Linked DNA regions of Homo sapiens. The protein of the gene in region 2 purifies or fractionates together with the protein of the main gene of each other region. This does not show direct contact. Each region holds a gene or a part of one and is shown on either strand. Other genes may lie near its edges.

Region 1 (7,025 bases), on a different chromosome or scaffold from region 2:
AAATCATAGCTTATGAGTAGTGATTTAAGGAAGGGCAGGGAAAAAAGGTTCCAGTGAAGGTGGCAGGGGGGATGCACATGTCAGCAGAAATCCTGGTTGTATGGTAATGTTATCAGCTGCCCTTTTGGAGCTCAGCTTGAAAGTGTGACTAAAGCTCCTCTGGCTGCTATAAAGCTAGTACTTTAGACTTAAAGCATTGTAAGGCAGATGCCTCAGAGTGGAAAGTTGCCCGGGCCTGGCCGGGAGCTAGTGGAGCAAGTTACAGGAAGAACTAGTGCCTAGAGCTGGGGGGTGGAGAGAGCACTTGTGCCTCACCCTTTGCCTGTCAGTTGTTCAGCGTGTAACAGTTCCCTGCTTCTTAGGTTCTTTCTGTACCCTTTTATAAGGGTGTATCCCCTTTTGGTAACTTACTGTTTGTTAATTTGTAGTGTTCCCTGCCAGTAAGCTTGTAACACTCTAGTGACTCACCTTCGGGTGGGAGGGTAGGAAAGGGAGAGGCCTGCCTCCTAAACCTGGGAAGATGGGGAGAGAGTGGTAAACCTGAGAGCCCAAAAAACAAACCAAAACAAAAAAACAAAAAAAAAGATGCCTTTAAAAATTCAGTTAGATGTTTGCCCAGATGAGGGCTAACACTTAAAATATACAGATTCCTGGGAATGTTATTCCTAAATTGCATTCAAAAATAAAAGTGAACTCAACATCTTATAGCACAATAGGCTTGGCACTCATCCATGCTCCATGCCAGTACCCTCAGTCATTGTTTTCGGATTATTTTAGCAACAAATGAACAGATAAGTGACTTTCCATTCAAATCAGGCTATGTTCTTTTAAATATATCTAAACTTAAGAATAAGAAAGGCTTTAACTAAAATAGCTTTGAAGGATTTTGTATGGTAAAGTAAAATTGGTTTCTTCACTTAAAAACAAACAGGTTTAAAAGTAAAATAAAATAAAAGCCCTGAAGCTTCAGTTTCTCATCTGGCTTTTGGATAGAATGCTCATCCTGGGGATCAAGTGAAGTAATCTATGTTCTGTTTATGGAAGGAGTGCTGTGCCAGCCTGAGTTGTGGCTATTGTTATTGGGCTTACATAGGTACAGTAATTAGAGCCAAGAGAAGATCAAATCTTTACAGACTGGGTTTGTTGTTCGTCAGTAAGTCATTAGCCCTTGCAAAATTAGAGAGCAGTTTTTCTTTCACCATGAGAACATATTAAGGTTTGAAAATAATGGGAAATACTGTTAATTGCCCTTCATAGGAAAGTCAAGTAGAGGTGTCAATTGACATTATTGCAACTGTTATCTTCGCTCAACAAGCAAATCTCCTGTTTAATAGCATCTTTCTGTCTACTTTCACTTCTCAGGTGAAGGACTTTGTTCGCGGTTGATGATCATTTTTACGTTTTTGAAGTCTTGCAAAATAAAATGGGCTTTTCGGCCTTCTGTGATGAGAGGGAGCCTGAACATTTGTGCTGTGCTGACTTCTTCTAGCTGCCGAGGGCTCTCTGCCAGCCAACAGGCTAGAAGAAGAAACCCGAGTGTCAGATCAGATGGGCTCACAGTAATCAGAGTGGCTGGGTTTGGACGGCAAAGCACCAGGCAAAATGTTTCCCATCCCTGCCAGAGCTGTCCAATTCTAGATTACACTGAAAGTACATGTCCAGTACATGATAATGTGCAGTAGAGAGAACTGTAAAACCTACTCACTCATTTTAAAACTCTCCATTTATATATTTTGGGGGAGGGATGTGGAACCTAGTCAGGTCTGAACTTTCTCACGTTGCTATGAATTGAGTGTATGAGAGGAAGTGTGTATTCTTTGGCTGGAGTCATAGAGAGACTGTTCTTAGCATATGACTCACCTCATTAGTTGTGCTGAAATCTGTTGTCAGGAATCCACAAGAAGTTCTTCATATTTATTTTGTGTTTCGGATAGCAGATTCTGTTACGAAAGAAGTACCCTTCACCCTACACTTTCTCTTTGGTTTGGTTTTTATTTGCATCCTGAGCAAAGGGATTTTTGATCAATAGACCTCATTCCTTTGTTCCTTTGTGACTTTACAGTGAATCTCTTTATCTGGTTTTAGACCTCACTTACTAGTTCCTTTGTGAGTTATGATGAAATATATCTGCACGTGATCTCTTTCCAGTTTTATTCAAACCCTATTTAGTAATGACTATTGGCTGTCTCAGTGATTTGATAAGTTGATTCATGATAGTTCGTGCTTTGTCCTTGGGACTTGTATTGTTTGGGAGCCTGATAATCAGTGTAAGATTTTGTGACTCAGTGGGCCTTGCTGTGTAGATCGGTGAGCTGTGATTGCTCTTTCTAGTCTGTTACCATGTAGGGGCAGGTCCCTAATGCACTTTGGGGTTATCCTCTTGTGTGTTTCTTTTATCTTCCACATGATGCTTCCATGGCACCATATTTGTTTTATTATTTCAATTCATGTGACATTTCTTTAGGGCCTTGGACAGCCTTTATCCTCTTCAGCCTGGCAGTCATTTTCCTTCCTAGCCTAGGCTTCAGGGTACTAATTGAGGAGTGATCAGGACTTACTGGGAGTTGATCTGGTCCTCTCATAACGCATATGCTGATTATTAATCAGTTGTCTCTAACCAGAGCAATCTGGTAAAATGAAAAAAAGGAGGGTAAGGTGGTCAGCAGAAAGGGGGAGTTAAGGAATAAGTAGAAAGTTTTAACCCTTCATAACCCATGCACCTAATGTAGAGGTAGAATTTTCCATTGAAGAAACTGAAGTTTTTGTCTGATTGTTCTTAATAACTGTAAAAGCAAAAATATATCTAAAGTGCACTGATTCTTTACACCTTTTAGAATTTTTATTTTTTGAATGATCATGGATGTACACTACTGCAGGTAGGGTAGGCTGTCAGGCTCATTAAGAATTGACATGCAGGCAGATTGGGGAGGAAGGTTAAGTCATGTTCTTTTGGGTTGAGGGAACCTGCTGGCTAGAACTGTCGCTGTTCTTTGACCCTTGCTGGCTGCTGGGCTGCCCAAGTTTGGATATACTAAACTGGGCTCACAAAGGGATCTACTGCTTTGGCCTTGGTAAATTATATTCTCCAGGATGCATATTTGGGTGGGCAAGAGAAGGAATATGAAGGCATGGTGGCCCCTCAGGCTCACCTCCTCTGCAGAGAACTGCTGCTCCTGCAGTGATGTGCTGCTGCTGGGGCTGGATAGCAGCCATGGTACTATGACAGTGTCCTCCCTCAACCCCGGCCATCCCTTAGCCCTCCAGTCCCTGGCTAGACAATTCCTTGCACATAAACTAAACTACTTAGTCATTTAGGAGCAAATGGAGATGTAATAAACTGGGCTAGATCATTTCTTGACTGTTATTTTCTTTAAGTTTTCACTGTTAAGATCAAATGAAAAATAATGCCAAAGGAGTTTTTTCTTCAAAGGTTTGAAAAGAATTTTCATAGAAAGCGAAAAATGGCAGTAATGTATATGTTAATTAAGACCAAGTTATAATAATAGCCTTTGTGTAGTGCTTTGAGAATACTTTTACATACACAATTGTGTTGGATGATTTAATAATGTATCGACCAGGAAAATGAGAAAGCACCCCTCCCCCTTACCTTTTACATTGAAGGTAGCCCAGACTTGGCAGCCTCTAGGGAACCAGCAAGGTCAGAGTCCATCACACAACTTTCCTGCTAAAGTGGTATTTGCCAAATCATGTCCAGAGGTGTTGTTTCTACAATCTTCTTGGCAACTCCGAAATGGGCTGCATTTGGGGCACTTCCTTTTGCCATCCTTCTGGCCCTTCTTGCCCGTCAAAAGCTTTTGTCTGTGGGCTTTGGAAATAGTCCAGTTTTTAAGGTGTTTTATTTTTCAGAGTTAATGGTTTCTTGACTAATCAGACTATGAAAATGCCTTCTCTAGGTTCTTTAATAGTTATACCAAGTGTTATTCCCATTTTAGGAATGAAGAAACTAAGGCTGACAGGCAAAGGTCATGTAGCCAGCATGTGGCAACACTAGAATAAATTGGCAGACTCAACACCATTAGCAGACCTGTCTGGAGGGAATGGTGGGTCTTGAACTTTCAAGTACCCTCTAAACTTTTTCAGCAGGAATTTCAGAAGTCTCAAGAATTCTGAGCTCCCTGCTGGCCATGGGACATTGTGCTGATATGGTGGGAAAAATGCAGGTTGAGAAAGCCTTCGCATCCTGCCCTGTTGGAGGCTGGTGTTTGGGATGGGTATGAAGGCCTTTGGCGGTGGCTATAGCTTATGCAGACCTGAAGCAATATACCTCTGGGATGGAAGATCCTGCTTATTTTGGGATAATTTCTAAATCTGTCATATCTATCCCCAACCCTGTCCCCATTAAATGGCTAATTGCCAAAAAAGAGGAAGCAACATCTTCAGCTCTAGCAAGTCTCGGGGATGTCTCACTCATTGTGAGGACTGTGAGGATTCGGTATATATTTTTAAGTGAGTGAACCTTGTTACATGTTTTAACCTTGGTTCCTCCTGTCAAGAATTTTATCTTCTCATGTCTTGGGCACCTTTTCCCTCTACCCAGATCAAATAGCAAAATGCTTAGTTAATCTTTGAGAGGATAGAATCCATGGGAAGCACAGGATGAAATGATGACGCTGTGCTAAGCTGTGTCACCGTGGGTAAGCCCCTGCCCTTGCTGTGACTTTCCACTTCCTAAATTAGAATGGAAGGGGGAAAAAAAAAAACCATAACCCAACTTCATTTTTATGAGTGGCCCTTTAGAAAATAGTGTAATCCGTTGAGTTTCCATTGTACCTTTCCTCAGAGATGCTCAAAGGGGCGGGGGTGCCCTTACATGGAACATGATGAGAGTGAGGATTAATCACTCCCAGTCCTCTGGGAGGGGGGAAGTGACCTGAACTTTCTAATTGAAAAAGTAGGAAGTGTGTGCCCAATGCCCAGATGAGTGGGAAGATTACTGTAGTTGATTGAGGAAATGCCGTATTTATCATTCACCCTTCCCATGACCTTTGTTTTTCCCTAATGCCTTAAAAAATAATAAGGAAACATTGTCCTACCTGATTCTACCACTGTTCATCTCACGCAGTGTGCACTCCCTGACTCTGAATTTTGCAGCTTTGAGACTGAGGTAATTGAGACTGATAGGGATTTAAGGATATTTGGTTCCCACAAGAATAAGCTAATATTAAGTTATTATTTTACTTGTGGAGAAGAACTAAATTGTATAAGCTGCCTGGTTCTTCTAGACACACATTGCCTAGTGAAAAAATTAAAATTTTGAAGAAAAAGCAGTTTTACTTGTTAATACTTGCCATGTGTCTCACCCACAAATAGCCTCATTTAAAACTTTGCCTTACCTAGCATGAATGGATAAAGAAAAAGGAGAGTTATTAGGGAATCTAAATTCCCAACTAACTTTAGCACTGATAGTGGTGAAGCTATGGGCAAGACATTTATTTTGTAAGTGGGGGTAAAACTTTGGAACGTGTTCAAAGCCTAGCTGCTCTAGTAATCCTCTCTCCTCTTCTGGAGTGGAAGATATTGGAAGTCTGAGAATAAGCAAAGCATGCAGATTATGAAGCTGAGGGGTTATAACTATTTCATTTATTGAAATATATTTCAATGATATTCAACTTGCTCAGAGAGAATCCGTGAGCTGTATTTTAAAAATCAATACAGGCTGGGCACGGTGGCTCACGCCTGTAATCCCAGCACTTTGGGAGGCCGAGGTGGGTGGATCATGAGGTAAGGAGTTCAAGACCAGCCTGGCCAAGATGGTGAAACCCCGTCTCTACTAAAAATACAAAAATTAGCCAGGCGTGGTGGCGAGCGCCTATAATCCCAGCTACTCAGGAGGCTGAAGCAGGGAATTGCTTGAACCCTTGGGCGGAGGTTGCAGTGAGCTTAGATTGCGCCACTGCACTCCAGCCTGGGCGACAGAGTGAGACTCCATCCCCAAAAAAAAGAAAATTAATACAAAGTGGTCACATAAATCTTTTAGAGATCCTTAGTCAATGTCTTTAAAATGTTTTTTAAGTGTTGTGCTTTCTCATTAAAGGTATGATATACCTTTAATTAAAGCTAAAGATATACCACTTTAGCTGTGGTTCCTTTCTGGTAGATGACCTGCCTTTTCCTTTTTGTTTTATTTGTCCACTTGTATGTGTTACTATTTTTCATTTAAACTCTGGCACCAAGAGCTGTACCGAAAGAGGCACCAACAAATGTGGTTGCTCCATAATGGAGAGAATGTCAAGAATGTTGACTATCTTTAGACCTGCTTCATTAATAGATAAGATAGAAACTAAAGAACCCACCCAGTTGGAAGAAGTTATTAGTCAAGTAGTGCTGCACACGTGACCACAGAAGTTAAAAAGGTAAATAATGTGTCTCTACATGTGGCCCACTCCAGTGAATTTGGAGAAGGATTTCTCCTTGGAGTCTTAAGAGGATATTTTTAAATTTAAGTGAACAATGTATTTTATTTGCAACTATTAGTTATGACTGAAACACACATAATACGTTTTGATTTTCTTTTTTCATTTCAGCACAGTGAAATTATAATCTGGACACGAGTTCCTAATTATTGCTTTAGTAGCTGGTAATGCACTTAGGAAAGTTAGAAATGAGTAAAGGAGAACCACAAAATAATAGTAATAGCACCATATGTCATGCATTTTAAGAAAATTGCTAATGTCTACTTTTTGGCCTTAAGTTGTAGTTGTGGGAGGCTGCTTCAGGGGGAGGTGTCTGGAACAAGGGGCTCTTCTGCTCCGCTAAGCTTTGGAGCACCAAGTTCAGGCTTTGTGTAGATAAGCTCAAGGATTTTTCAACAGGGGTGGGGGAGTGGAACAATCTAAATTTAAACTATAGAATCAACATTTTCTTTAAAAATTGTTCCAGTTTTCAAGAGGCGTAGGTGGATCCTGTGAATTATGTGATAATGCACACGCTTTTCCTACATCCTGCTTATGTCAAAACATTTCCAGAGACTTTCATTTTGGAGGTTTTATTTTCAGGCTACAGAA
Region 2 (7,025 bases):
AACATTTACTTTACCTCAAATATGCCTTCGGCTTATAACCCATGGCCAGAGCCTTTTCCTCCGCCATGATTAACATTGCAGATGCACCATCAGTCTGAAATGTTAACCAGCACAATGTTAAAATTCTTCAGCCTGTCTGGAGGTCTTTCTCCAGCCATCTTATATATCTGTACCTGAATCTATTAACTCATTAGACTTATACAGTGATTCTATATAACAACACTTACTTCACTGTATCCATCATTAAATCATAATTCAAACATACACACGCTGACTCATTTTTGGAGGATGAGGGTAGAGAAGGCTGTTCAAAAGTATCATAATAATCAAAATGAATCAACAGAAGAGGTAACTTTAGAAATAAATGCTCATGGCCAAGCGTGGTGGCTCATGCCTGTATGCCTGTAATCCCAGCACTTTGGGAGGCTGAGGCGGGCAGATCATGAGGCAGGTGATTGAGACCATCCTGGCTAACGCGGTGAAACCCCATCTCTACTAAAAATAGAAAAACTTAGCCAGGTGTGGTGGCACACACCTGTAGTCCCAGCTACTTGGGAGGCTGAGGCTGAGGCAGGAGAATTGCTTGAACCTGGGAGGCGGAGGTTGCAGTGAGCTGAGATCGTGCCACTGCATTCCAGCCTGGGTGACAAAGCCAGACTCTGTCTCAAAAAAAAAAAAAAAAAAAAAGAAAGAACTGCTCATAATAAACACTAAACACTTATTTAAGCCAAAGTTTTTAGCTTGTGGCACAAAATATGAACCAAAATAAACATATCTCTTATTTATTTATTTTTACATTTTCTGGGCTCTCAGCTGCTTTCTGCCCGTGGCTTACAGGTCATTTTATTCTACTTATATATTCTGTAACGAGCAAACCAATGGGAGAACCAGCTGAGGACATTAGAACCACAATCTTCCCTCTTTGGATACACCCCATACATTTCTTCCCAAATGACAACCGAGAAGCTGGAGGACAAAGAAGTACTACTGAAAAAACGTCCTTTACCATACTTCAAAGAAGAAAAGCTCCCCCAAAAACTTCAGAATTCCAAAGAAAAGGAAACTATTCTTCATAATTTGTAAAATCAAAATAAGTTCTACCACATTCTGTCGTATTTTTATAACTCGGCAACCCTGAAGAGACTGTGTAGCCACCAATAGGGTGTCCATAAAGTCTGGAGACATAGGTGACCATATGGAATAAATGGTTTACAGACATTACATTAATAACAGGTTCAATGTGCCATTGTGCAAAATTGCAATGAATGTGGGGCACTAATGCAGTCCCCAAAATCCATGTATTGTGATGTGTCACCTCTGATGATTTGTGTCTCTGATTCTCACTAAATAAACCTGGACCTTTAGCATACCCTGGAAATAATCAAAAGGATTCAGATCTGGCAAGTGTAGTCCATGCCACATGGCTCTATCATCCAATTCGGTTTTGCAAATGACCAACCTAACCAGCTCTTCACCACCTGGGCTTAACAGGGTGGTGTTCCATCCTGTTGGAACTACTCCAGATTCCACTCCCCTAGCCTATCAAGAGCAGGCATTAATTAGTCATTTACCATGGGCAAATATGTCAAACATCTGCGTATGTTTTCAAGACTTTATGGCCAGGTAGGAGAGTTACATTGTAAGAGAAACTCTGACCAGATGGCCTATATCCAGAAGACTATACCCAAGGTGGTAAGAGAAGAGAAATCACATCTTACAAGCAGCAGCAGAATCAATAAAGATGTTTAATTGAGGAGTCAGAAAAGCATGGAAGGATATGAAGCTACATGTTGATAAGTTAAAAAAAAAACACAAAACAAACAGTGGTAGATTTGTTCCATGATGCTTACAGGAAAATAATATTGGGGTCAGTGTAAAGCAGTTTTCTAACAATCAGGGCTGGAAGAGGTATCCTGTTACTCTTTCTGCCTGCTTTTCCTTGTCTTCTGCGACTTCCCAGTTCATACCTTATGCTCCAACCTAACTTTTCCCCAAAGAACCCCTTGCTCTCATACTTCCTTGATTTTGCATTTGCTATTCCCTTTGTCCAAAATGCCTTTTTTTTTTTTTTTTTTTTTTTTTTTTGAGATGGGAGTTTCGCTCTTGTGCAGGCTGGAGTGCAATGGTGCGATCTTGGCTCACCGCAACCTCCACGCCTCCAGGGTTCAAGCAATTCTCTTGCCTCAGCCTCCCGAGTAGCCGGGATTAACAGGCATGTGCCACCACATCTGGCTAATTTTGTATTTTTAGTAGAGACGGGGTTTCTCCATGTTGCTCAGGCTGGTCTCGAACTCCTGACCTCAGGTGATCTGCCTGCCTCAACCTCCCAAAGTGCTGGGATTACAGGCGTGAGCCACCGCACCCGGCCTGAAATGCCTTTTAAAATCCTTCCTGAGTTGGCTTTTACTCTTCCTTCAAGATTTGCTGCTCAAGTGTTACCTCTTCCAAGAAGACTCTCTGACTGTCCCCCCATCTGGGTCAGGGGTTCGACCTAAGCCTTACAGCCATCACAGCATCTCACTATATTGCAATTGTCTATTCTTTTCATTTCCAGGGCCCACCATAAGCAATAGAAGTTTTTGACTGGTTAAGTGCCTGAAAGGAAGAGCTTTTGTGGCAGAATGGTGGCTGGATTAGGTGACTTCTCGGGCCTTAAAACCGTGATTCTATTTTTTTTTTAATGACTCCACTTTCACATTAAAATGAATAACTATATTTTTAACCCTCTATTCATAACACACACAAAAAGTTATATTAGGCTTTTCTACAGAGAGTACAGAAATAGAAAAGTCACTACTAAATACAAATAACATTGACAGTTACCAAGAAAGAAGAATTTGCAGCTGTCACTGTGCCGTAGGGCTTGATGAATGCAGGTTTTAGTTTGGCCATCTGCTCCAGTGAGGAAGGACGGATGCCATTATCTTTGGTAACTGTATCTTTTCCTATTAAAAAAATGAATTTTTTTAACTCTATGGAACCACAAGCCTTATATATCTTCTCCACAGAAATATGCTTTAAAAATTACAAAAACAAATGAAATATAAACCTTACCTATTCACTAGAAGGAAAGTGTTTTATAATTATCATATTATCAAATTTTAAACTAAAGTCTTAAAAGACAATTGGGAAATCATCTAAATGCTTTACTAAAAATAGGACACCCTATTTTCTTAAGACATTCATTCACAGTTGGCTATTCTATACAGAAGTCAGACGATTCAGGAATTTTAAAAACAGGCATGTATGTAAGAACTAAAATATATCAGCAAGATCTAAAAGGAGACTCTGTTTTTCTTTTTTTTTTTTTTAATTAGAGATGAAGTCTCACGCTGTTGACCAGGCTGGTCTTGAACTCCTGGCCTCAAGCGATCCTCCTGCCTCAGCCTCCCAAAGTGCTGAGATTAGTGCTCAGATCTTAAAAGGACACTCTTATAGAAACATTAAAAAATGTTAACCTATTGTTACAACATAAATCAAAATTTGCATCCATATTTAAGAATAAAGGCTGAATACTTTGGAAACAGAACCAACATACTTATGGAAAAATCACTCGGGATGTTTTTGAGTTTTAGGAGCAATTCAGAACTCCCTAATAAGTGTCATGAAGCATTTCATTTCACCTGGTACTTTGAAGGGTACCACATCAGAAAGGAGTCCTTCATCCTGTGCCTTCTTGGCTAGACTGTGAGAGCGCAGTGCATATTCATCCTGTTCCAGCCGAGAAACAGCAAAGGCAGCGGCCAGTCGGTCTGCAGAGTGGCCCATGGTCTCACTGGTGGAGAACTCAGAAACCGCAGGGAGCTGGGAAAGGAGATATCCAAGGAGCAGGTACACTGTTAACCGGTGTTATGCTAACACCTAGGATTGTTCTGTGTTATTTGGAAAAGTTAAAATCTATTTGTCTACCATTAATCAATCAAGTCCAAGACAAGCAGAGGATCTCTAAAGAGGATCTCTAAAGAGGGCTCACAAATTAAAGTTTTCTAACCACTATCTTTTTTTTCCATCTTGAGCAAGTAATTAACCCTTTCCTGTAACTACAGAATCTACACCTATTACAGCATAGCAGAGTCCACACTGCCATACCTAATTCTAAATCTCTGCAGTGGGATGCCCTGCAAACACAAGCCTTACCTCAGGTGCTAGGAAATTAAATCGGAATTTAGAGATTAAAGACAGTCGCTGGCCCATAGATTTGGCCTTATTGAGATCAAGCATCAGTTTTCTCATTTTCCTTGAGTGACGAATAGGGACATCGGACATCAACTCAACACCACCTGCCACGATCACATCACACTGGCCAGAAGCAATCAAGCCAACACCTACAGGGCACAGGTTATACTTCATGAATATCTTTTACAGAAAATAACATACCATTCCAATTTAAGCTTCTTGATTAAAAAGCTGAATGACAGTTATCAGCTTTGTACAACATCTGTAATTAAAGTTTTCAACTTTTCAGAAGAATTAAGGTAATTTTCTTAAATGACTAAAAACACATTCAACACGTTAGAGAAAAACAAGTTTCATTCCTGCCATATGGACGTCAACTTCTAGGAATATCCATTGGACCAACTCTTGAACAAATCATATTCCAAACCAGAACATCTTGCATATTTATATGCTCCCAGCTTTAGTTTTAATAAAGATTTTTTATCCTATAAAGAGAATGTTAACTTCTGCTGCAAAGCAGAGAAATTACAGCTGTTGAAACGTAAGGCAGGCCCCCTCTCTCCTTATGGCCACTGGCCAGTATTCTGTTTCTCTAACCAGGAGTTGGTCACATGCTGCCTAGAGTGGCGAACGCCCCCAGTCACGGGCATCATTCCCCGCCACACATGAGGTGGGGTGCCCACCTGGGCCTTGATGTTACTAGATGAGCACATGATTACTAAATCTTTCAGGCTTCCTTGCCTCCTCACACTAAGAGCTGATGCTACAAAATATCCCACAGTTTTGCTAAAGTTTGTTAGTGGGGTTTTCAGTGATTTATAAAAATGACAAGGATGTAAGGAGAAAGTGAAGGAAAGAGCTGTGCCATCTAAAGCAATGATTTACAAGTATGGTAGTGGTGAAGGAAGGAAGACCATATCTTTGTGGGAAAATATCATATCTGAAGCACCTAGGTTGAAAGCCTGGCAGGTTGTAAACTATTTACTCATGCCTCAGATGCTGAAGTACCTTCCTAGAGATACACTCCTCCAGTTGATAATCCCTGCTGCAGCCAGCCACATTATTCACAGAGGAACCACGCCAATGGTAATGTTCCTCAGGTATGGAGAGCAAAAAAAGAGGTTAACTACGGTTAGAACCCCCAAATTTTAAACCTGACCTTACTTTTTAAAAAACACAAGTATAGAGATCTGTGCTAATCTTTTACTTCTGTTAAGAGTACTTTTTGGGATGAGCATGGTGGCTCACGCCTGTAATCCCAGCACTTTGGAGGCTGAGGTAGAAGGATCACTTGAGGCCAGAGGTTTAAGACCAGCCTGGGCAACATGGCGAGATCCCGTCTCCACAAAAAATTTAAAAATTAGCTGGGTGTGGTGGAGCACCTGTAGACCCAGCTACTTGGGATCCTAAGGCAGGATGATCTCTTGAGCTCAAGAGTTTGAGCCTGCAGTGAGCTATGATGGTACCACTGCACTCCAGCCTGAGTGACAGAGTGAGGTTCTGTGTTAAAAAAAAAAAAAAAAAAAAAAGTACATTTTTATAATCAAGTAAAAGACAAAGGAGAATAATTAACATGTACTGTCTGTTTCCATTTAAACATACCTGTGGTCATGGCTTGGTTGGCAGAGATACAAGCCATGGTGACAGTGTGAGCAGGAGTCTTGTCAGAGAAGCCAGCTCCAAGGGCAGCCTTTAGGAAATAGAGTGAATGAAATGATCACTATAAGGGAAGGGCATCATGTAAATGATGCTTTGAGCACTAATCTTCATAGTCATCTGGAAACGGTTTCAGTTTAACATTCTCCAGAGCAATATTTAAAATCAAATGAAGTCCATCACAGAAATGGTTCACTAATATTTAATCTTGCCATTAATTGACAGGTATATGCAAAATTCCTGCTGGCTGGTTTCTAGTGCAGACACGAGGCTATGATACTCTCCTAACTCACCTAATTTCTTATCGATGTTTTGCTCAGGGCCTTCAAGAATATCAATATATAATTTGATTTTAACTTGTTTAATGTTCAAATATACTTAAAAGAACCTATTAAAGACAGTTGCTGGAATGATGATGAAATATATTATGGGGTGGAGTCCTCACTATCTGTGTTATCAGGTCTCATGATCAGTCACAAAGCTTAGCAGCAAAGCAAAAGTGATTAAACATGAAAATGATTTCTAAAGAACTGACCCTTCATAAACAGAGTTCCCACTCAAGACCCTGTCTGCTTTACACCTATCTTTCTGCTCACTGCCAGCTGGTTTCTCTTACTGACCGTCTGATACTTCAGATAGCACACTGCAGACCCAATGCAAAGATGAACTGGAAAACTTGCCAACTATACAGAAGCTCAACTCAATGAAAGAAACTGGAGAATTGCCTGAGTTACAAGTGAGTCTGTGAACAAATAAGGGTCAGACCAACTAACAAGTGGCCAGGATGATGGCATAATACGTGATACAAAGAGAATAATTTGTCATCTGAGCGGCTTTAAGAAAAACTGAGGTCATTATTAATCTTTTAAAAATGGCCTCTATTATAATGGCACAGTGAAAGTCAAACATGAAATGAGCACATCTATAATTTTATTATACTATTTATTGGGGGAAATTATGCTGTCAAAAACCAATCAACGTCTGATTCCATTTTTGTTTATGTAAATAATTAATGCACAGGTGCAATTATAAAATACTTATTTTTATAATATTAAAGTTTTACTTTAGAAATAAAGCTTCCAGATTTCCTCCCACATACACACCCACACAATATTTACTATGAAATACTGGATCCCATTATAGGGAATTCATTTTTAGTATTCTTTCCCTGAAACTATTAATTATCCTCAGAA
Region 3 (7,025 bases), about 210 Mb from region 2:
TGAAGCCCATGAATTACATCCAGAACCTCATCCGTGCACCCACAGAAGGATGGATGCATCTAGAACAACCCTCCTGCATGCTGGTGTTTGGCCACCACAGTCTGCCCTTCCTCCCATCCCAGCACCTGGCGCTGAGTGGTGCCCCCTCCCCTGAGCTCCCTCTTCCCCTGGCGTGGTTCTGCCTATAGCTTCAGTTCAAGTATTTCTCTTGGGGGTGCTACTGGCGTTTGTGGAAGGGCACCTCCATCTTGCAGGATTACTGGGCTCCCTGGCCCCACCCACTAAACACCAGAGCACCCCCACTCCTCAATCACTGGGATGTCACAAGTGCCCAGGGCAACTGCTCCCGCTTGGGAGCCACCCTATCCCAGGGGACCTTCCCAGGTATCTGTCTGACCTGCAGCCACCCCTCACCCCAAATTGCCCACAGGATGAGGCCACGCACATAGAACAGGGAGGCACCTGTTCTAACACCTACCATCCTGGGTGTGAGGCCACAGGAGGGAGACTGAAGATGCTGAGCAGTGTTCTGTGTACAGCCCCCCGCCAGGCTCGGGGAGGGGGCATCGCGTTCAGGAACAGTGGGGCTGGATTACGTGAGAGACTTGTCCTTTTAAAATACCTCCTTGGGTCCAGTGTGTCCCAAGCTCCATGACAACTGGAGATGCATGTAAACGCCTGAGCCAACCCTGGTGGCAGGTGGCATCAGCTTTGTCCCCAGGGCCTGGTAGATGGTCACAGGTGGGTGGGATGCTCTCCCTGCAGTCTCCAGAGCCAAGGATGGGCCTCCTGGCCCCGGTTCTTGAGGAGACACTTGGACGTCACACATGGGTTACCACAGGGATGGGATCAGACAGCCACAGGGAGCCCCAGTCACCAAGGATGCGCCAGACACGGGTGGGCTGCGGGGTCCACAGTGGGCACTGAGGCTGCACCAGATGCAGGGACAGGCTGAGACGATCACCCATAGGCCACAGCTCTGTGACGCACTGGACAGCTGTCGTCGGTGTTTGGGGAAATCGTCTGAAGGTGCGCACAGGCCACAGACTTCCCTACAGGTCCCACTGCTGATGGCGCACCCAGGAAGCACCCCTGCCGGGGAGGCTAGGGATCCGGTCGCTGCTGCATGGGCCTAAGGCTTGGCTGTTCCCAGGAGGGAGACGTGCTGTTCTGGGCCTCAGAGCATCGGGGTCACTGCAGCCAGATCCATCACCCCAGGATGGACCAGCGGGTGAGGACGGGGCTCAGGATGGACAGTGCCGCAGGGTCCTGGGCGGCTGGATTTGGGAGTCCCCGGAAGCCCCAGCCAAGTTTCTCAGTAGAACCTGAACTTCTGTGGGGCGAGAGCAGAAGCCTAGCAGCGTTGTACTTCCTGGCCCGCCCAGCTCACCCTTGTCCCTCAGGAGGAGCCAGGACAGCAGGCGGGCATGTGGTGCCCACTGTGGGGCTGGCTCTGACCTCAGGAGACCCACCGGGCGTGGCGGCTGGGCTGGGCTGAGGCTGGCCGGGCCCTCCTGCGGTGTGTGTCCTCACATGGCCCCGACACGGAGCTGCAAAGAAGCCGGGCCGTGTTCACAGCCTCCCCTCCTGTGCGCTCCCGGTGCCCCTCAGGCCTCTGGGTGCCTGCACCTGCGGGGTAGTCTGTGGCCTTGGCCCAGCTCCCCATCCTCTGACCCAGCCTCACCCCTGCTAGCCAGGCCCAGAGCAGGAGTGAGTCACTCGGCAAGCAAGTGTGGGGCTTGGCCCCAGGCGGCGAGGCCTCTCAGCTCTGAGCCCTGGGAACCCCTCTCTGGGACTCAGCTTTCCCATCTGCAAACTAAGTGGTATTCAGCCCACCCGGTAGACAGCCCCTGGTGCTGCCGACTCTGGGAACTCCTGGGGCACCTCAAAGGTGGGAGAGGACCAGGGGAGGGAGGGCCTGGGGAAAGAGGGACCCTTCTCTCCCTGTCCACCGGCTGCGCCCCATCAAAGACCTTGAGAGCCCACCAGGAGGCCTAGTTCACAGATGCCGCTGGGCCTCACCTCCCACTGCCCCGTGCTGGGCTCAGGGTTTCTGCTTCCGAGTCGCCTGGCCTCAGGGATGATTTGCAGTGGCTCTGTGGCTGGCCCTCCTCCCCACCACAGCCCTGGGAGGTCTCCTCCTCCTGAAGGAGCAGGACAGGTGGAGCCCCTGGGTGGCTGCCCTGTCACCCTGCCAAGCCTGCAGGACCCAAGGGGCACTCAGCACAAGAGAGCAGCGGGCCTCCTCGGCCAGCCACCGCCTCAGGAGACAGCAGTGGTGCAGCCTCCTGGCCCCCAGGCCTCCCTCATCTCTACATCTCCAAACCCTCGCCCTGCAGTCCCACTGCCTCCCCGCCCAAAGTCCACCTGAAGGGCTCTGCCCCCTGACAAGTGGGAGACTGGGGCCTGTCCAAGGCACACTCACACCACTGAACCACGACTCTCCCAGCCTGGGCTCCCGCAACGCAACCTGGAGAAGGTTTTCAGGCCAGCCTGGCCACTGCCCCCCACCCCAGTTCTGTGACGGCACAGGCGGCGGCATCCTCAGCCACTGCTGTACCACTAGACCTGGAACATCACCTGAGTGGCCCGGCCCTGCCACCCGGACCTGAGGGAAAAGCGGAGGCCCACGGCAGGAGGGGCTGGCCAAGGACCCAGTAGCTGTGCAGGGCCTGACGCTGAGGCCTCCCAGGCTTGTGGGGACCAGGCTGTGCCCAGAGAGCGCCTCAGGTGGACGGGGGTGAGTGGCAGGCTGGGGCGTGGTCACTCCCTCACACTGTCACCAGGGTCTCGGGCACATCTGTGCTGAGCTCTAAGCCCATTACAGAAACACGGCCCAGTGCTCAGGAGGCCACAATCACAAAACACCCAGAGCCTCGGGGTCTTTGCCACCTGATGGGAAGATGTAGGTGTGCCGGGCTGGGCTAGCTCCCCACTACAGGCTAAACTGTACCCCCAAAACCCACATGGCTGAGGCCTAACCCCGATTCCTCAGGATGTGACTTTGGGTGTGGAGTCTGTGTGACACCTCTCGTTAAGAAGAGATGGTACCGGTGGGCCCTGACCCAATTAGAGTTGTGTCCTTGTGAAGAGGGGGAATTCGGAGACAGAAGCGCACACGGGGAGAGCGGCCTGTGGAGGCCAAGGTGGGATTTACCAGCCAAGGAACACCTGGAAGCTGGCAGTGTGGAGCAGACTTCCTCACGCCTCAGAAGGGGCCAGCCTGGTGGACGCACACTTGATCTCAGGCTTCCAGGCTCTAGAACCACGGACGACCCATGTCTGCAGCTGCAGCTGCTCAGCCTGTGGCACTGTTCCGACAGCCCTGGAAACACTTGTGCTCCCAACCCCGGCACCCAGCCCCACCCGGTACCGGGAGGGACTCGGGGCCTTCCCCACCCTGTGTGGAGCTCAGGCCTGCCCAGGCGGGGGCCCCGGCAACAGGGAGGGTACGTGTTGGCCGATGCCCGGGAAGTCAAGCTGTGGGGAAAGGCCGGAGGAGGCGGGTGCTGTGGGTGGGCACAGGGAGGACACCGTGGAGGGAGGGGACAGGTGTGCCAGAAAGGTGGGTCAGCAGGAGCTGGCGGGAGATGGAGCTGAGGCCACAGGCAGGAGAGGGGATGGTGTGAGGCTGGCCTGGCCCTCTCAGGGGCTCCTAAACCCACCCGGATTCCAGACTGCTACCGAGCCTGGGGCAGTGGGGTATGCCCCTCACACCTGTACTTCCCCGCCACCCACGGCGGGCCAAGGGCAGCCAAGGAGGCTGCAGCTCTGGGCCCTGCTCCTCAGCATAGCCCTCACCCAACACCTGGCTGCTGCGTGCTCCCGCCTGGGTGTGGGGCCTGGAGGTGGAGGGAGAACCGCCCGCTTCCCTGGCCCAAGCCTCAACACCCTACACTGCACCCCCCACCCCGTCAGGAGACTTCAAGCGGCTCAGGGCACCTGCCCAGGCCTGTTCCCAGACAAAGAAAAGCCACCACAGGCACGGCAGCGAGGAGCCCAGGCTCCGGGCAGGCGGCTCCTGTCTGGAGCCCCCACGTAAAGTGGGCAAGATCCCGGGCCCCACAGGGCTGTGCTGGCGACTGGCAAGATCCAGGCCGGCTCAGGGCTCTGGGCACGTCGACACTGGACAGGGCCAGGGCTGGGCAGAGGCCCCGCATGTAGGAGTGCCCACCCCAGCCTCCACCACGGGTCCAGTCTTGATCTGAAATAACTGAGCCAGGCCCTGTGAGGACGGTCTGGCTTAAGAAAAGGCGTCCAGCCTCTCACTGGCCCGGGCACGGCAGATGTGGGGCCCCAGGCCAGACCTGACCAGTGTGGCTTCGGGTGAGCCCCTCCCCTGGCTCGTCTCCTGTCTAGTGCCAGCCCATGGCTGACACCTGTGCCATGCACATGGATGCCATAGAACAGACATGGGCATGCTCAGACACCCACTAAGCTCTCCTCCGAGGTCTGATGTGCAGCCCTGCGGTTCGGCCACCAGGTAGGTATGCCCCCCGTCCTGCTGTAGGGAGGCGTCCTCGGTACCTGGGAAGGCGCGTTAACCACAGGCTCACACTGTCCCTAGAGATTGCTGGTGTGAAGGTACAAGCCCCAACAGACTGGACTGCCTTATCTCCCTGGCTTGGCACCTGTGGGCACCTGAATAGGGTACCTGTCCACTAATCCTGGGGCACTTGGCCCAGTGTGGGTGGCTGGTCTGCCCTGTTGGGGACATGCAGGGCTTCGTGGCACACGCTGGGAACAGCCCTCCTAGCAGTCCTGCCCCCCACAGGCAGTGGAGCCAGGCCGGAGGGTGAGGCCCAGCTGTGTGGAAGTACGACTCTCTGGGCGGCACGGCCAGGAGGAGCTGGGCAAGACCGGAGGCAGGGAGGCCAGGAGGAGCTGGGCAGGACCGGAGGCAGGGAGGCCAGGAGGAGCTGGGCAGGACCGGAGGCAGGGAGGCCAGGAGGAGCTGGGCAGGACCGGAGGCAGGGAGGCCAGGAGGAGCTGGGCAGGACCGGAGGCAGGGAGGCCAGGAGGAGCTGGGCAGGACCGGAGGCAGGGAGGCCAGGAGGAGCTGGGCAGGACCGGAGGCAGGGAGGCCAGGAGGAGCTGGGCAGGACCGGAGGCAGGGAGGCCAGGAGGAGTCCCGGTTAAACGTTCTAAATGAGCCTAAGAGATGGAGCCCAGGCCCAGGACAGGAGAGCGGGCTGGGAAAAGCACGAGCCTTCCAAGAAGTGCAGAGCCTGGGACAAGCAGCCTGGCCTGGCTTTACTGGGCAGTGGTCAATGCTGTAGCCAGATCTGGCCCTAAGAGGAGCGCTTCACCAGGCTTCGGTTTACTCATTTGTAAAACAGGTCTACAAAGACCCCTTCCGTCTGATGTGTTAACCAGACAGTCATGGGAAACGCTCCACAAGCCGGGTTTCCCCGTGTTCTAAGAGCACCCGGGTTCATGAGTGCTCTTAGGGTACCGGATGCCATTAACTGAGAGGGGTGTGTGTGGGCCTTTGCAGAGGGTGTCCGGGGAGAGGGGGGACACAGCCCGAGGCTGCCCACGAGGTGCACAGCCCCAGCACCTTCTCCCTCCTGGCCACCTTCACAGGAGGTCACGATTATTCCCTTTCTCTCCTGTGAAAAGGCCCGGGGACACCGGGGATGGGATGGGGGTGGGGGCATCTGTGCCTGAGGAGTGCTGTGGCCTGCCTGGCATGGGAGGCTTGGCGGTCCAGCAGGGACCCAGGCCATTGCATCACGCAGGTGGCCCTGTCGGATCAGGGCTCCCCTGGGCTCCGCTCGGTCCTCACGCTGGGGATGATGAGCTCCTCTCATGGAGGGAAGAGCAGCGACACAGCAAAGGCTGAGGACCACCTGGGAACCACGCTGAGCCACCTGGACAGGACAGGGCACAGGGAACTGTCTGGTCTGGTGAGGGGCTGTGTGCCAGGCAGCCTCCGAGAGGCCCGCTGAGCAGGACTGAGAAGCAGATGCTGGTGGGCTCTCCCGGGCCCAGCCGGAAACACCCTTTCAGGGATGTGGGAAGGAGAGGTCCAGGCCCTCTGAGGATGGTTCCCCAGAGTCTGTGTGCCAACCACCCAGGCGGTCAAAAGTGGCACAGAGAAGAAAAGATTCCTTCGGAGGGGCCCAACGAGTGGGTGCTTGGTACAGGCTCCAGGGCACGCTGGTGCCCGCTCCAGCTGGTAGGCGGGCTGCCACTCTGGGCACAGGAGCGGCTGGGCAGTTTCTGTGCCACCGACAGTCCCATGCCCCACTCTGACTTCTGCCCCCAAAACTAGACCTTAGGGCCCCTCCTCTGCCTCAGGCTGGGAGACCCTGAGAACAGGGGTGTCTGCTCCAAGGAGACCCTCCTCTACCCTCCATGTCCCGCTCCCCACCCAGCACAGCCAGGTATAAAGCCAGGAAGGCCTGGGGGTGTCCTCCGAGAAGCTATCCTGGGCCGGGAGCCAGCCGGGTTCTGTGGCTACAACAGGGAAACAGTTAGAGGTGGTCCCAGCGACCAGGGAGCTCAGGTGCCAAGGTGGGGCGCTGAGACCCCAGCAAAGGAGCAAACAGACACACATCACATCACATCAGACATCAGGAGGCCAGACAGGTGCTCTGGGAACACCTATGCCCAGACACAACCTTGCAAGCAAAAGCAGGAGGCCTGCTGGCACGCGGGCAGTGATTCAGCATGAGGGCTCCTGGCAGCGCAGGGGCACCCGGGGTGCCACTCGGCTCCGCCCTTGCCTTCTGTGCCGTGCCCTGGCATAAAGGGAGGGTGGCCGGGTGCCCTGCTGCAGTGCCACCGTCCAGCTGGTGGCACCCAGGCCTGCTTCCTTGCCCATAAAATGGGATGACCACTGCTGTCACTGCAGCCTGGCCTGGCTGTCCAGAGGACAAAGGAAGTCTCAAAAGGGAGCCCAATATGTCCCGACACTGCCCTCTTTCATGAGCTAAGTCTCCTGTCACCCACTGCCTTTTCTGGTCCCTGGGGCAGAGGCTGGGAAGGCCCGCCACACACCCAGGGCCAACTGCTCTCCT

The links. Proteins that work in one complex are often made in the same cells at the same time.
Region 1: the proteins of HADHB (region 2) and ATP1A1 fractionate together in Homo sapiens (co-fractionation; 3 studies listed by BioGRID, with this or other methods). This does not show direct contact.
Region 3: the proteins of HADHB (region 2) and GPC1 purify together in Homo sapiens (co-immunoprecipitation; 4 studies listed by BioGRID and IntAct, with this or other methods). This does not show direct contact.

The regions. Positions count from the first base shown.
Region 1 is NC_000001.11:116,376,220-116,383,244, forward strand, and holds part of ATP1A1 (sodium/potassium-transporting ATPase subunit alpha-1), read left to right. Parts: intron 1-7,025. UniProt on the Homo sapiens protein: This is the catalytic component of the active enzyme, which catalyzes the hydrolysis of ATP coupled with the exchange of sodium and potassium ions across the plasma membrane.
Region 2 is NC_000002.12:26,275,914-26,282,938, reverse strand, and holds part of HADHB (trifunctional enzyme subunit beta, mitochondrial isoform 1 precursor), read right to left. Parts: intron 5,867-7,025; coding exon 5,779-5,866; intron 4,326-5,778; coding exon 4,138-4,325; intron 3,805-4,137; coding exon 3,624-3,804; intron 2,946-3,623; coding exon 2,824-2,945; intron 95-2,823; coding exon 15-94; intron 1-14. UniProt on the Homo sapiens protein: Mitochondrial trifunctional enzyme catalyzes the last three of the four reactions of the mitochondrial beta-oxidation pathway.
Region 3 is NC_000002.12:240,438,639-240,445,663, reverse strand, and holds part of GPC1 (glypican-1 precursor), read right to left. Parts: intron 1-7,025. UniProt on the Homo sapiens protein: Cell surface proteoglycan that bears heparan sulfate. Binds, via the heparan sulfate side chains, alpha-4 (V) collagen and participates in Schwann cell myelination.